Regions from separate parts of the Homo sapiens genome. Here regions 2 and 3 are each linked to region 1. The links come from fine-mapping of genetic effects on gene expression. A gene starts in region 1. Each other region holds a variant in brackets. All regions are shown on one strand. Distances are from middle to middle.

Region 1 (5,579 bases):
AACTGGATTCCCAACTTCTCTCTTGAAGTGATGCTGGCACAATTGGGCTTGAATTCTAGCATGCTAACAACTAGGTTCTGAAGAGTCTCTCTTACCCCATTGCCTTACTCCTTACTTCACCTGCTGGCCCCACTGGGGTTTCAACTCTCATTTTACACATGAGAAAACTGAGGCTCAGAGTGGTCAACAGCCTTGCCCAACAGCAGAGTTTCTCTGTGAAGGGAGCCATGTTGGTGCACATTGCCCGATTATCAGTGAACGTTGTGATTCCTTTTTCTACAAGATGAAGGCACATTTCATTATTTTACTGGCATATTTTCTCTCTAACCCAGCAGGTACACTGGAAATGATAATCCTGAAAACTTGTTAATGAAAGACTTACTTCAAGTGATGAGAAAAACAATACAAATGGATTAATTTCAGCAAGAAGTCACCAAGATTTGGCCAAACTCAAAACAGAAAAGTTTACATGTAAAAATAACAAAGGAATGTAACAACAGAATTGAAAATGGTATAACTAGAGTTTGCATGGTCCCCAAGCATTACTTTTTCAGGCTGATCCTCACATAAGTACAATTCTTCCACCCCTTCCCAATCTCATTCCTGTTCTTCTAAATTCAGAAACATGTGCAAACCCTGCTCTGGATCTCTTCTCCAGGCTTCCCCACAACACACATTTCCTTTAGGATTTTGCTTTTTTGGATTTATTTGTCCTGGTTAAAGCTGGTAGATAATCCCCACTGAGTTTTATCTATCATGCCTAGTAGCATTTAAATACCTGGTCTGGGAATTCCTAATGTATGCAAAGTGCATTTTTGTTAGAACCAGCTACACAAACAGATTACATAGATTACAAATGTCCTTTAGAATGTGAAACAGTGAATAATCTAAATGTAAACTGATAGGGAAATGGTTCAATTAACTTTGGCATATTGTGAAATACTGTGCAACAAAGCAAAAAGAAAAACAGGAGGATCTTAAATACTGACATGGACTGGTCTACAGGTTGCAAAGGAATACAGCACAGTATCATTTATGTTAAAAGGCCAACAAAAACATACATATATGTTTGTGGGTTCATATGTGTGTGTGTAAATTCATGGACAATGTTTGGAAAACTACATGAAATATGAAAGTGGTGAAAGTGGACACCTCTTGGAAGACAAGGAAATGGGGAGAGGTATGGGGGGTGTCAGAGAGGGCTTTAGTTTCACCTATAATGTCTGCAATGTCTTCATTTAATTTAAATAGGAAAAACATATAGAACCTATATGTGACCATAGGTTCTAAAATTCTTTTCATGTAACATATATAAATATTTATGTGACCGTTAATTTCCAATCATAATCTCAATGATAACATTTGTAAAAACATCTGCTCATCCTTGGAAATGAAATTTCCTATGCCACGTTATCACCCAAATCAACTTTTTAAAGTGTAAAAATAACAAGTATCTGAAAAGTTAAAGTTTACTTTCACAAGGTAAAATCAAGTGAGTCAACTCTAGGAGGCACAATCGTTTTGAGGACAATCAATTTCTATTTAATGGCAAAGAATAAGAAATATGGGATGGATTTAAATAAATCCAGTTTCACTCAAATTCCAAGTCAAAAATCAAATCAAAGTGTCAGATTGCTTAAATGATTCTAACCTGAGTTCGATTTCTAAGGTGCTCTTAATTTTTCAGTGATAGCATTTGCTTTTCCCAACAATAGCAAAGGAAAACTGGAGGGCAAGTTTTGCAAGGAAGAAACTGAGCCCCAGAGAGGTCAGGGTTTAGTGTGACGTCCCAGCTAGGAAGTGGCGGCTGGGACTCCCTGCAGGTGTCTCCTGCCAGCCCTCTGTGCGCTGGGCCAAGCTGCTTGATTTGATTCACCAGCGTGACACCGTGCATCTCCACATCCGGTGTTCTCACGTATCATCCCTGGCGATTATCTATGTGTCTATTTTTTAATTTACTGACCTCTGGAGGCCTGTCCCCGCCATCCCTGACTCCTAGGCACTGGACAAGCCCCCTCCTCGCCTCTTCCCCCAGCCCCGCGCATTCCACCTGTTCCGGGGCATCCCCGCTTGCTCCCTTCCGCTCGCTGCCTGTCCCGGGACCTGCGTGAAGCCCTCAGCCTCGCCACTAGCCCGGCAGCCGCTCCACTACCGCGCCGCTGCGGGTGGGGCCAGCGCGTCCCCCGGACGCGTGGAGGAGGGATGGAAGTGCGGGGGTGGGGGTCGCGCAGCCCCCACTCACCTTGCTGGCTGCGGGCGCCGCCGCCAGGAGCACCAGCAGGAGCGGCAGCAGGAGCACCTGCGGCCTGGGGGCGGTCCGGGCGCTCATGGTGGGCGCGCGCTCAGAGCCTGGGCGAGTCCGGGGACCCTCAGGCTCTCAGGCCACCGCGTCTCCTGCGCAGCGCGGCTCTGGGAGCCCGGCTGGAAAGCTCGCCTCGCCACTCGGCCGGGGCGGGTTTTGTAGGGCTCGGTCGCGCGGTTCGTCCCTCCCCACCCAGGCTTTTTGGTTGTGGCTTCAAGGGAGGGAAGACGTGGCTCAGGTCCCGCCCTCATACCCCCTCCCTCCCAACTTACCAGGCAGTGTCCCTTCTACCCGGGCATCGTGCCCAGGAGGCGAGAAAGGGCTGGGCGCCTGAGGGGCAGGTGGGCGCGGATCCAGGGTAAGGGGTTAAGGAGGTGATGCTCCCAAGGTCCGGGGGCCCAGGCGGGGAAGTGGGGTGCGGTCGGAGGTGGGGCGTTTGGGGGTGTGCGGTGGGGAGGTGGCTGCGCGGTGGGGAGGTGGCTGCGCAGGGTGGAGGGAGTGGCCAGCGGCCCTGCCCAGATTAAGCGGGAGGCGCGCCGGGCGTCTGCACTCGGGAGGCCCCGCTTGTTCCCCGCGCCCGCGGCGGTCCGCGTTCCCCGCCTCCAGCCCGCCTCCAACTTGCGGCCGCCGGGCTTGGCTGCGAGAGCGCCGCGAAGAGGCAGCGGGGCGCGGGTGGATTGGGGCTGGAGGTGCGCGTCCCGTGGGGTGGCAAGGCGGCAGCTCCTGGCGCTGCGGGCGTCCCCACAGGTAAGGCGCCCATAGGTGGGGCAACCGCTGTCCCGGGGCCCCGGCACCTGCCTGGGAGGGGCAGTGGAGGGAGCGTGGCATTCAAGGGGTGGTGGCGGGCCCAGCTGGGGAGTTGTGGCCCGGGGGTCACCAGAGGAGAGCGCGTCTGGCTCCTGGGCTTGTCTGCCTGGGCTTTAACTGGGTGCTGTGTGTTTTGATTAATTTGGAGGCTCGAGTTACCGGCCTGGCAGTCGGGGCACTCCAAAATGCCAAGAGAAAGAGGCAGCTGAGGAGAAAGAGAAAGCCCATCTTATTCTCCGCTGAGTTGAACTGCTTTTCAGGCCAAATCTTATCTGCGGAAATGCAGGGCAAAACAAGACTCAGCTCTGGTCAGGGTGCGCTCTTCCTGGGGGTGGCCTGCGATGCAAATGTGCCAGGGCACGGTCCTCCAGCCGGCTCTCGCCGTTTCCTGTGCTACGGACCACACTGGCTCTGGTAAAGCAATTAGACTGTTTCTCAGAAGAATGTTGTGAAATGCATAAAATACAATTAAATCAGAATCAGTTTTATTGGAATGCAATTATGGAAGTCCTCAAGTCGTGATATAGTAACTAACACAGGTGCATCATCATTATTGCATTAAATAGCTTGATTTAACAGCAGGCCGATTAAGCAACAGTAATGTCAAAGTAGTGATGTCTGCAAATGGTATTTTGAGATAATAGCCCAAACTGAAATGTGACATGAAAATACCGGTGGGTGCAAATTATCAAGAACTGCCAATACTACTGTGCTCTGTTGCCTGTGCTCATAAGGGAAGGACATGTTGAACTTCTGTGACATGTTACTAAAAGTAAAGATGCAACTTATTTTCCTATGTGAGTTTCCTATACAGATCACCTGAATTCCATCCTCAGGTTAAGAATCTTTGCTTTGGAACAGTGTTGCTGATATTTGCTGCAATTGGCTTCAGACACCAAGTATGATCATGCAGTTGGTCACTGATTTTAGGGAACCACTTGCTTGCAGTTAAATTTGGGATCTATTGGTATCTTAGAACTTTGTAGCCATGCAGGTAGGCAAAACCCTAACAGTGAATGAAGACACTCCTCCCATTCTTTTTATTTTGACTATAGCATGAATCTTACAGTCTTCTTTCTGTCTTTTATGCCAGTGATTCTCAACTATCGTTGTGCATTAGAATCTTTGGGAGGATAAAACAATGTTGCTACCCAGACCATTCCAAGCCAATTTTATCAGACTCTCTAGCTGTTTTAAAATTTCCTGTACATTCCCATGCACAATCAAGTATGAGAGCTCCTGTTTTCACGAACATGTGAAAATTTCACGCACATGTTGAATTAGGATATATTCTTAGTAGAATAATAAAAAGCACATATATTAAACTCTTCATTACAACTTGGGAACACTGCGGAATTTATGACCATATCGCAGATGTTGCTGTGTGGTATGCAGTAGCTTCTTTCCATTGGTAGGGAAGGTTCTTCTGGAAACTTCTGCCACTCTTGTGGAATGAAACGGTAGGTGTTCTGTTGATGAGGTGACAGTGTCCAAGAGTTCTGAGAGTCACATGATTATGTTTCACAAACTGACAGTATTTAATTTTAAAAAGTACAAACAAAAAAATCTCAATGCTAATGTTAAATGCTTCTCTTTGCCAAATTCCAGAAGATTCCTCAATTTGAATTTTAATTGCCTTTTCCTGAAACCAAGTCATTTTGTTGGAGGACTAGACTTGGTTTTATCAATTTTGGAACAGGAAGTAATAGTCAACTGCAAGTCATTTCTGTTGCAGATACAGAGCTGGAAAGAAACTTGTGATGTAAATACAGCAAGAAAGAGGCAATGCTGGAGAGCTTGACCTCTGGAGTAGACTCTGGAGTTTTGAATCCTTTCCATACTTACTAGTGTGACCTAACCTCTCTGGGCTGGAGTCTTCCTTCTATAAAATAGACATACTCACCATACCCACCTCAGGGAGTTGTTGGAATCTAATGAGATAGCAAAAACCCTTTGTGCAGAATCTTCACACAGTAGTCACATAGTGAAATTTGATTCTTTTTTTTTTTTTGTACAAAGGAAAATAGGTGGCCCTGATGAGAAATGGTGGCACGTGGTAGAGATGCTCTTCTGAGCTCAGTACTAAAATGGCTGGAGGCAAGCATAGCCTATGAACTCCCTTGAGGTTAATACACTTCCAAGGCCTCTAGAACCTTGCCTTGGCATCCCTTGGGACCAGCAGCATTGGCCTCCCTGGGAGCTTGCTGGAAATGTAGAGTCTCTGGTCTCACTCTGGATCCACTGAATCAGATCCCACATTCACCAAGATCTCCAGGTGATTCGTATGCACCTGGTACTTAAAACTCTGAGAAGTTGCTTATCTAAAAGCCACATTTAACCACCTATTCCCCACCTGCCACATTTAGAACAATGTTTGACAGGCTCACCTGTCAAACAAACAGGTGGTGTTAATTAACTGGAAGGCTTGATTGTTAAAAAAATTGTCTTTGGGTCAAGAGAGTTGATTTTT
Region 2 (5,579 bases), 64 kb before region 1:
ATTCAAATGAATTATTTAATTTAAAAGATACAGAGTCCATATTTTTATTCTCATTGATTTTAATCCATCTACATTGTTGGACCCATTTTTTTGAAACACTATGGTTACTTTAATAGTAATAACCCATTCATTACTATTCAACTGTTAAATCACATAAAAAACCAGGATGGCCAAAGGCTAACTATTAAGGAAGCATAACTAATGGATATTTCTTAAGCAACATTTTTATGATTTTTCTCCTTCCAGCAATAAATTACCCCATAGTTTCCTCATATCTTAATGGAATACAAAATCATTTGTCATGAACAGAAAGCTCTTAATAATAATATTATGGCTTTTAAACCCCCTCCTGCCATCAGGAAATGACCCGAGATTACATGATGTTTTAGCACTTTTGAATATTAAGTAGTTAAACTTGTGGAAATCATTCTTTTTCACAGTTGCATTTCTGTTTTACGGCCTTACTTAAAATGCAAAATAAACTTTCATTGTAGAGAATCCAAAAAGGTTTGGAATTCCAGAAATCACAGGCCATGTATGTATGGACCTACTGAATATATACGGACCCATCTATGTTGAGTCTACTCCCAGCATTGTAGCTACAAACTGGAGCTTTGGGAAATTTCTTTTTTTTTTTTTTTTGAGATGGAGTCTTGCTCTGTTGCCCAGGCTGGAGTGCAGTGGCACGGTCTCGGCTCACTGCAAGCTCCACCTCCCGAGTTCACGCCATTCTCCTGCCTCAGTCTCCCGAGTAGCTGGGACTATAGGCGCCCACCACCACGCCCAGCTAATTTTTTGTATTTTTTTTAGTAGACACAGGGTGTCACCCTGTTAGCCAGGATGGTCTCGATCTCCTGACCTCGTGATCCACTCACCTTGGCCTCCCACAGTGCTGGGATTACAGGCGTGAGCCACCGCGCCCGGCCGGGAAATTTCTTAATCCTTCCAGGTTCCCCCATCTGTCAAGGGAGATACTAGGATGTACCTTGCAGTGTTTTTGTAAGGAGTTGAGATGCTGTCACTAGCCTGCCTGGTACCCTGCACTCAATAAGGACTCAGTCACTGGGGGACTCCCCTTTCTCCTTTTCAAGATTCCAAGCCAAAGGACATCCACAACTATTGTTTGATCCTTTCTTCCATCAGTCTGCACTAGCCACCTTCCTCCCTGACATTTCCTCTTGAAGTCCCTTGTCCAGTGCCAAAGAACTGGTGTTGAATCTAAGAGCAAGGGTGAGAGACTGCTGTTATCTATCTCTAACAAACAATAAATGAATTAACTCATATTTGTTAATAGTATTATTAGAGTACACTGACTATATTGGTTGATTAACCAAATATCATTTGCCTAAGAGCACAGACACATTACAATGTTTTATTTAACAAAATATTGGTTAGAGACCCCAATGGTACTTGATGCTTATCCAAGAAAGGTGCCAGATCAAATATATTACACAAAGGCAGCAAGCCTTCCAGGAGTGCGGATCAATTGGGTCTCACACTCTTCTCTTGATCTCAATTCTCGCAGTGCCCGTGTGCCACCCATGTCTCACCTGCACATCGCTTTCTCTTATGAGGCAAAGTGGTACAGGGTGAAGGGCACCAGTTCCAGAGACGTACTTCCTGGGTCTAAATCCCAGCTCTGCCACCTCACCTCTGTGAGTCTAGGCAGTCTCAGGTGTCTCGGTTTCCACATCTGTGAAATGGGGTCAGATTGGTTAGCACAGGTAAGCCCTTAGAAGAGTTCATAGGATACACTGAGGGCTGTTACTGTAGGCTGTTACTAACTCATTGACTTGACATGGATCATTAGGTGCTCCTGAGTTGAGGGTTTATCACTTTCCCTAAACTGCAGGTGGGAACGGTGTCTCACAATTCCTTATATCCCCCTAGCACTGTAAACAATTATCTTTTTATCCTTAAAACTCATGAAGGATCTCATTAAACACATCCATTTTTATTGTTCGTTAAAAGGATCAGGAAATATGCACATGCATTTTTATTAATAGACCAGAACATAATTTCCAAATAATCTTGACTATTTCTCTCTCTACTGTCAACAGCCAGCATGCTCGTTCCTGTGCATGCTGGTGAAACAGACGTGGCCTGCCCTGCCTTTCTCCAATCTCTCTCCCGCAGCCCAGCCCAGCCCAGCCTGGTTTAATAGCAGGGGGAGTTGGCACCGTTCACAGCTGGTTAACACCCTACTGAGCAGGTCTGTTGATTTTGCATTATGATTACTGACCCTGCCAGTCCCTCTGCCCAGCCAATAGCCTGAGGGGAAAGTTTTTGTGTGTGAAAAGAAGAGCTGACCAAGTATAGCCAAACCGTGCCAGACAGACGCCACGAGCTGTCCTCTGCAGGGCCGCCTCTGCCCGTGTCTGCCTTAAGCAACCAACCATGTGCCCTGGCACCATGCCCTCCAGTGAAGAAGAATGACACCCATGGACTGCTTTGCGGGATGCCCCCGCCTGCCCCGCCCTGAAGCTGCTGTCACCACCCTTGGACATCAAAGAAATCTCACTGCAGCTGCCACTTCCTATCCCTCAACTCCCGTCCAGAGACACATCACTAGTCTAGACATGTAAGCCAGCCACCCGTTTTTGATTTTCTGGATGACAGCAAGCATACAGATTACTAACTCTGACAAAGACGGTGCAGTGAGGGCTCTCTGGTACATTTGAGAATAAATAATATGGTAAGAAAATTTTGCCCGTCTTATGCAATGCAGAGAATGGTAAGTATACCTATAATCATTAACTCCAGGTTCCTTTTTTTTTCTTTTCTTTTTACCCCCTAAAAGGTTTTGAATGCAGAAAGACTGAGAAAACTTCACTATTCATGTAAGAAAAATAGGCTCCACGGGATCCCTTGATCAGGATGGTGGTAGAGGAAATGAACTTCCATCAGCACTGTAATGATCTCAGTATGTTTTGAGCACTTTCAGTGCTG[G/T]CTGTCTCATATTATCTCATTATATCTTACAACAATTCTGTAAGGGAGGTACTGTTATAAGCTCCATCTAATAGATGAGAAACCTAGGATTTTGAGAGGCTAAGGATAGTAAGGAACATGGGGAGTGGGGATCTGAATTCAGGTGAGACAGTCTGACCCAGGGTCAGTCATATTCTCAGGTGCAGTGTTGCATTTCTTCTTCTTCTTTTTTTTTTTGAGATGGAGTCTTGCTCTGTCACCCAGACTGGAGTGCAGTGATGCAATATTGGCTGACTGCAACCTCTGCCTCCCAGGTTCAAATGATTCTCCAGTAGAGATGGGGTTTCACCATGTTGGCCAGGCTGGTCTCAAACTCCTGAGCTCAAGTGATCCACCCACCTCGGCCTCCCAAAGTGCTGGGATTACAGGCGTGAGCCAGCGTGCCCGGCCTGTATTTCATTATTGACGGGCTCTGCTGGCCACAAGGCACTGGGGGAGGAGGGGTATGTTTCTCCCCCTCTCACCCTATCACTGTGCCCCTCATGATGGGACGTAAAATCCCAGTGAAAAACATAACATAGTAGCTCATGAAATTAGCTGTATAATGCAGGACTTGGCAGACAGCAGCTTGCAGGACAAATCCAGCCCTCTGCCTGTTTCCATCCGGCCTATGAGCTAAGACTGGTTTTTATATTTTTCATGGTTGAAACAAAATTAAGAGAGAAATAACATTTTGTAATGTGAAAATTATATAAACTTTAAATCTCAATGTCCATAAGTTTGCATTTCATCAATACAAATGTTGTGGATATTTATTTTCTCTCTTGTTATATAGGTATCTGCATAGTAGCCTTCATTTTGCCTCTTGGCTTGCAAAGCCTAAAATATTTACTACGTGGCTCTTTATGGGAAAAGCTTGGTGATTCCTGGTACAAATTATCTTCATTATATTTTTTCTATGGCAATATAAAAATTGCATTAAAAATTAAGATAGAGGCCAGGTGCGGTGGCTCATGCCTATAATCTCAGCACTTTGGGAGGCCGAGGCAGGTAGATCACCTGAGGTCAGGAGTTCAAGGCCAGCCTGGCCAACTGGGGGAAACCCCGTCTCTACTAAAAATACAAAAATTAGTTTGGCATGATGTTGAGTGCCTATAATCCCAGCTACCTGGGTGGCTGAGGCAGGAGAATTGCTTGAACCTAGTAGGTGAAGGTTACAGTAAGCAAAGATTGCACCACTGTACTCCAGCCTGGGCAACAGAGCAAGACTCCATCTAAAAAAAAAAAAACAAACCTAACATTAGAATAGAAACTTAAAGAAGAGATCAGCTGTGAGTTCCAGTGAGAGATGGTCTTCTACCTTGGAATGGCAGACTGGGACCTGTCTCTTCTTTCTGTCCGCCTACCCCCATGTGCCTCCCCTTCTCCCACTGTGCTTCTGTCCAGAGCTTGGGGGACACAGGGAATACAATTTGGGGACTGGAAGAACCCAGCAGATCCTCTAGTCCAAAAGTTCTTCATGTTTTGAACTTCACAGGGCAATAAAATAAATGTGTCTTAAAAGGAAGACAAACAGAGGGCTGTCTTAGTTATATTTTTCAATATAAGAGCAATGGCCACCTCCAAACACAAACCAACACAATCACCCACCCCCCAAACCACAGCAGACCTCTCATCTACTGTCCTCATATTCCAGAGAAAAATTAAGATACCATAAAGCAAGTAAAATGCCCACAGAATAAAATATGTTCCTGGCTGGGCATGGTGGCTCACGACTGTAATCCCAGCACTTTGGGAAGCCGAGGCGGGTGGATTACTTGAAGTCAGGAGTTCAAGACCAGCCTGGCCAACAGGGTGAAACCCTGTCTCTACTAAAAATACAAAAGTTAGCCGGGCATGGTGGAGTGTAATTATAGTCCCAGGTACTCGGGTGGCTAAGGCAAGAGAATCGCTTCAACCTGGGAGGTGGAGGTTGCAGTAAGCAGAGGTTACATCACTACACTCCAGTCTGGGAGACAGGGTGAGATCTGTCTCAACAAAAAAAAAAAAAAAAAAGAAAGAAAAAGCTGTTCCCTTAACATGGGAACTTGATAAAAAGCTCCCATTTTACTTGATTAAAAAAAAAAATCTCTACCTCGTTCTTATTTTTCTCACTTGCTTTGGCCTGGTGCAACCCTGCACTGGGAACCACTAAATTAGCCACACCCACCTCCACTCTCTCTTGTTGGTCACTCTTTGCTTTGTCACCTGCTGCTGCAGGGTCTTCTGTCTGAGAGGTGAAAGTAAACTAATCTTATCGAGAGACATGATGCTAATGGGTTAATTTTTAAAAATCCGCCTGGGAACTGACACATTTTTCAGAAAACATTACCTCTTAAAACAAACAAAAAAGACAGAAAGCTGCCACCAGTGCCACAAGTGATGGAAAATTCGAGCTGCAGGCTGGCAGGTGGAGACGCATATTAAGGCGGATGGGACTTCTTAGGTCATGTGCCTGGTTTGTCTATTCATAGGACCATTTGAAAAAAAATCTTTGAAAATGTTATTTACAAAACCAAAGTTTAGGCCAGGTGGCTCACACCTGTTATCCTAGCATTTTGGGAGGCCAAGGTGGGAGGATTACTTGAGCCCAGGGGTTGGAGACCAGCCGG
Region 3 (5,579 bases), 27 kb before region 1:
ACTCAATACCACTCTCTTTCTTAGATCCAGGAAAGGGAGCAGTGGTGGAAATAACTTGTCTGTTGAACTATCTCAGACGGTTTACCTGAACCTCACCTTTGTAAACAGTGTCTCTATAAATAAACTTCTCAAATTATCCAATTGTGAGTGTGTCGTGGGTTTCTTATTGGGATGCTGATGATATAACAGGTATGCATTTTCTTCAGAAGACTCTTTGGAACATAACCCATAGGACTCTTCCTTCCTTCCTTCCTTCTTTCCTCCCTCCCTCTCTCCTTACTTCCCTTCTCCTTCTCCTCTCCTTCTCTTTCTCTCCCCTTCCTTCCTTCTTCTCTCCTTCCTTCCCTTCTCTTTCTCCTCTCCTTCTCCTTCTCTCCCCTTCCTTCCTTCCTTCCTTCCTCCCTCCCTCTCTCCTTATTTCCCTTCTCCTTCTCCTCTCCTTCTCTCCCCTTCCTTCCTTCCTTCCTCCCTCCCTCTCTCCTTATTTCCCTTCTCCTTCTCCTCTCCTTCTCTCCCCTTCCTTCCTTCCTTTCCTTCCCTCCCTCCCTCCCCTTCCTTCCTTCCTTCCTTCCTTCCTTCCTTCCTTCCTTCCTTCCTTCCTTCCCTCCCTCCCTCCCTCCTTCCTTCTTTCTTTCTTTTTTCTTCTTTTGCCTCACTCTGTCACCAGGCTGGAGTGCACTGGTGCAATCTCGGCTCACTGCAACTTCAGTCTCCCTGGTTCAAGAGATTCTCCTGCCTCAACCTCCCAAGTAGCTGGGATTACAGGCATGCACAACCACGCCTGGCTAATTTTTGTATTTTTAGTAGAGATGGGGTTTCATCATGTTGGCCAGGATGGTCTCCAACTCCTGACCTTGTGATCCGCCCACCTCGGCCTCCCCAAGTGCTAGGATTACAGGCGTGAGCCGCCGTGCCCAGCCAGGATTTTATTTCTAATCTTTGCATCATGAATATTTATTTAAACATCCTGCCATTGTGATCTTGAGTCCTTCCTTAAACTAAGAGTTATTTAGGAAAAAGATTTAAAATGCATAGGTAGGCCTTTTGCTGTCGTTGTTTTAAATTTTATTGCATTGTAAACAGATTTTGATTCTTCATCCAGTTCCATAAGTTTATCTAATTTGTAGAATTCCTTCATTGTTTCTTTGTGGTCAAATTATGGTCCATTTTTATAAATATTCTATGAGCACTGGGAATGAAGATGTATCCTTGTAGGGAGGAGATGCACTTAGTCCTATCAGGTGAAACTTTTTAATTGCATTATTCAGTTTCTCTAAACTAGTGCATCTCAAAGCATGGGTCTCAGTTTCTTACCTATGACAAGGTAAATATAGAAATTGAAAGTAAGCATTTAGAAAGCTTAGAGTGATTTGATAGAGTGATTTTATGCTGATTAAAATATTTGGGCTTATATTTTATATCTTTTAATTTCATTTTCTTTTAATTTTTTATTCTTATATTTTAAGAAAGTATTGGCTCACAATATAATGGAAATGTAAAAACAAAACAAAATTTTCTTCACTATAGAAAGTTTGAGAAACACTGTTCCAAACTCTTATTTGGGTTGACTCGATTCGTCAAGGATTGTTCATTCATGATTCACACTCACTCCCCAGGGGACAATGAAACCTCTCTCCCTGCCCTCCAGGACACCCCTAACCTTCTCCCCACCCTTCACTACAACAACTACCACAAACACACACTGAGCAAAGTCCCAAGGGACACTTGCAGAGATTGAGGACTTGGGGCACATGAGACCGTCAAGTGATCTCCATACAACCACCATTGTGGTGGGGTTTGAAGACTTTCAAAGCCCCAATACCAAGGGTGGGACAGGGGTTCACATTTATGTATACAGCATCATTTGATTCCACAATTAGCTGAGATGAAAAGAGGGTAGAGATGAAAAGGTTGGTTTTCATCCTGCCCTGGTCAGGGTCTGAGGAAAATGAAATGAGCAAGTCAAATATGATAGTGTGTGCTAAACCACATCTAACATTTCAAAGCATTATGTGCACATGAAGAAATTAAATATTTAATAAAATGGTAGGGGAGAAAGACAACAACCAGACACAAACTTAGCCTTCTTCACAATTCTATAACTAGGTTTAGACAAGCTGTTCAAGACAAAATTGATAGTCAGAACCTGGAGTAATAATTGTTTGGGATTAATTTACCATCTGTTTTTCAATGACGTTTTGCAACTGGATGGTATAATTACCGTTTATACTCTGTGTCAAAAGCAAAGAGAGATAAAAATGAATACTTGAGCACAGAGAGATAAAAATGAATGCTTGAATTTAGAGCAAATTCTTCCTTTTTAAAGATTTGCTTTAGAGATGAAGAAATTCACTGTACACATTCACAGAGAAATTTAAGGAAATATGACTTTCCTTCGATAATTTTTTTCCCTTTCCACAATTCTCAAGTGTCTGTTTTTGATAAGGGCACTGCTGTTGAAGAAATTGCCAAATTTATTCCAAGGTCTTTGTGTTTTGTAAGAGAATCTGTAATATTCTAAGTTCTTCTTATTATTAGCGTTCCAGAAACTAATTATGAAAAAAATCTTTATTTTTAGCCTTCATAATTACAAAAATAAGAAAATGATTTTCATTTAAGGTAACCTGAGATATGCCCAGTAGTTGTAAACACAGTTGTCTTTTATTAGAATAAAGTTTCTTGCAGGCCATAATGTAAAA[C/T]TTCAGCTACATCTGTCTCCAAGATGAGTTATTTGGCCGACTTTGAAATCTGATCATCCTGATTTGCTGAGTCACTGTAATCTCCCATTGCAGCCCCTTGGCAGGTTCTTTGAATCCTTGATGCGGGGAATGGCCAACAGGGGAGCTCCACAAATGCACCGTGGATGGAGCCATTCAACATTTGTATGTGGCTGGTAAAGAGTGATTTTGTGAACTGCTTTTCAAAACACTTCTTAGCTTTCTTTATTGTTCTTCCTGCCCCCTCACCCACTTAAATTTTTTGTTTTTGCCTAAAGTCTGAATTCAGAAAATAGGTCTTTTGTATATGCCAACAGTCTTAAACTTTTGCGTCCTTTACAAAAAAAAAATCCATTTCTGGGAATGTGTACGAGGAATGTACTTCCAAATCAAGCAGAGTGTCATTGGCATGATCATAGCAGTATTACTTATAATAATAAAAATTTTGTTATTCCCCAAGTATCCAAAAAGAGCAAAGTGGTTGAGAAAATTTAAATGTCAAAAATTGTTTCCATGGCCATATACGTATTATTTATGTAGTCTATTTTTAAGAGAAAAAAGACATAAAATTTCATATATAATAACCTTTGCATCTATTTTTTAAAAAATTCTATACATAATAGAAGTGCTAGAAGAAGATGCTAAAAACATTAATGATATTGTCCTTAAGTAGTAAACTATGATTTGCTTTTTTCCTTTTAACTTTTCAGAATTTTGCACATTTTCATTAGTTATGACATATTACTGTTACCCAGTCTGGAGTGCAGTGGCATGGTCTTGGCTCACTGAAACCTTCACCTCTTGGTGTCAAGCGATCCTCCCACATCAGCCTTCTGAGTAGCTGGGACTACAGGTGTGTGCCACCAGGCCTGACTAATTTTTTAATTTTTTGTAGAGACGAGGTTTCGCCATGTTGGCCAGGCTGCTCTCAAACTCCTGAGCTCAAGCAATCTGCCTGCCTTGGCCTCCCCAAAGTGCTGGGATTAGAGCCACGATGCCCAGACTACCTATTACTTTTATAATAGAAAATAATTAATACACTTTGTTTTAATTAGTGATACATTTCAACCTCAAAGAATACACAAAGTCCCTCTTCTGTTACATATTTTGATCCGAAATAATAAACTGATATGTATATATTCCTAGATGACATATAAAACATATCTATTTATGTGTTTGCTTCAGACTGTAGAAGTGTTTCCATTTTAGTTCCTCAGGAATGGGTACAGACTGTTGTGAGAAGCATCATGCATGTCCATATTTTAAAAGGGAGTCAGGATCTGCAAGAAATGGAATTCAAGGCATGTTTGCAGAGCCAGCAGAGGAAATATAGTATCATGGAGCAGGCACGCCAAGATGGCAGTAAGGGAGAAGCATCACTCTCTTGAGTTACCTCCAGCTCTTGAGGGACCTGCATGTGCCTTGCATTTAAAATATGACAATTGATCTCAATGTATTCTTGTTTGATGAATTTTTCAACTCATTTATGAATAGTGACTGCAGCTAAGATGCATCAGGGAATGTGCTGAATGCAGGGGATGTTTGCTTTTTTTTCTTTTTTTTTCCACCTGACATTCTTCCTTTCTCTTGGTAGAAGCACATCCATCTACCTAGCCACTGTTATGGCGTTAGAGCATGCAACTCCAAAGTTTTTCTCTGATGATTTCTGGGAAAGGAAACTTCCTGATTTGGGGGGAAGAATTACTGGTAGAAATGGCTTGTCTTCATAGCAGAATAACACAGAGAAGTATATGGCTGAGACCACGAGGGAAAGCAATCTTAGGATGAAGCAGACATCATGTGAAGACAAGGGGTGAAGGAAACCTGGTCTTTGATGATATCTTTGAAATGCTAGGTCCAGCCTCACCTGAAACCTCCATGACTTCTAAATTTTTAAATTATGGAAGCAAATAAATATATGTAAAATGGTTTACTCTATTTTGAATGGAGAGTTTTAGGTTACTTACAATTTCAAGCCTGCAAATTAGAACTCTGGGTTATTTAGGTCTTACTTGATAAAAGAAATGCATACTAATATAGTGAAATGGACAGGCTTTTTACCGATACTAACTTGTAACACGAATGTAGCACAAGTCTCTGGGTGAGCAGTTCTTTGATGCTAAATTTGGGAGGGTGCAGAGTCATCTATCAGTCATCACCACATCACGTTGATTAGACCAAAAAACTCACAGATCTGCTTGCTTCTTTCCACCCTCTTGGTCACTGTGTTCCTTTTGGCCACCTCCTTGTCTCACGGGGATCACCACCACACCTTGCCTCTGCTTCTCTGTGTTCTACCCACCTCCTCTCTTGCTCACCTCTAATCCATTTCCCACACCACAACCAGGGTCTCTTTCCAAAGCACAAATCTCATGATGTTTCTGATCTGCTCAAGATTTTTCTGTGCTCTCCATTCCTCTAAGGATCAAGGTCAAACTCCTTCTTATGACACTACAGGATGGAGCCCTGCCTTTCTCCCCAGCTCCCTTTTCCTTCCTCCCCTGGCCTCTCTCCCTCCAGACACTCACCTTCTCTCTGGTGCTCAAACAGAATCCCAAGCCAACATGGGCTGTTTTCTGTATATGGAAGAGTCTCTCCTCCCATCCTTCCTGGCTAGATTTCAGTCTCAGTGTGGACATCATTTTCTCTGGGAAGGGTTTTCTGACACCCTTCTATATGCTCCTTCGGCAGGCATTCTCTGTCATTGCATCCCTGTCCTATCATGTGACATTACAATTGCCCATTTCTTGGTCCATAACTCTTACTATACTGGAAGCTATGAGGACAGGTCCATCATGCTCAGTCTCATGTCTTCAGCCATAACACAGCACCTAGCACACAGTAAGTGCCTTATAAATATTT

Which allele goes with the higher level. Positions count from the first base shown, and alleles are read on the strand shown. Sizes are in standard deviations (SD) of each study's normalised expression.
With allele G in place of T in region 2, the expression in thyroid of the gene that starts at base 2,432 in region 1 is higher (small effect, 0.21 SD a copy in GTEx).
As copies of T replace C in region 3, the expression in skeletal muscle of the gene that starts at base 2,432 in region 1 goes down (moderate effect, 0.52 SD a copy in FUSION).

Evidence for each region. PIP is the estimated chance that this variant, and not a neighbour inherited with it, causes the effect.
Region 2: its variant is fine-mapped to the expression of COL4A3 in thyroid (GTEx, PIP above 0.99).
Region 3: its variant is fine-mapped to the expression of COL4A3 in skeletal muscle (FUSION, PIP 0.95).

The regions. Positions count from the first base shown.
Region 1 is chr2:227,161,477-227,167,055 of GRCh38, reverse strand. COL4A3 (collagen type IV alpha 3 chain) reads right to left here and starts at 2,432. Exons shown (of 52, transcript NM_000091.5): 1 at 2,243-2,432. The coding sequence starts at 2,329. It overlaps COL4A4 (collagen type IV alpha 4 chain), which reads left to right and starts at 2,851. Exons shown (of 48, transcript NM_000092.5): 1 at 2,851-3,049. RefSeq lists silencers at 2,199-2,378, 2,599-2,978 and enhancers at 3,249-3,348, 2,623-3,524.
Region 2 is chr2:227,225,114-227,230,692 of GRCh38, reverse strand. All of the region lies in intron 1 of COL4A3 (collagen type IV alpha 3 chain), which reads right to left. It overlaps MFF-DT (MFF divergent transcript), which reads left to right. Exons shown (of 14, transcript NR_102371.1): 11 at 2,061-2,212; 12 at 2,801-2,923. Among named protein-coding and RNA genes, the nearest start is that of COL4A3, 63 kb to the right of the region's middle. The variant G/T (reference allele first, on the strand shown) is at 2,950.
Region 3 is chr2:227,188,773-227,194,351 of GRCh38, reverse strand. All of the region lies in intron 1 of COL4A3 (collagen type IV alpha 3 chain), which reads right to left. Among named protein-coding and RNA genes, the nearest start is that of COL4A3, 27 kb to the right of the region's middle. RefSeq lists an enhancer at 2,430-3,629. The variant C/T (reference allele first, on the strand shown) is at 2,700.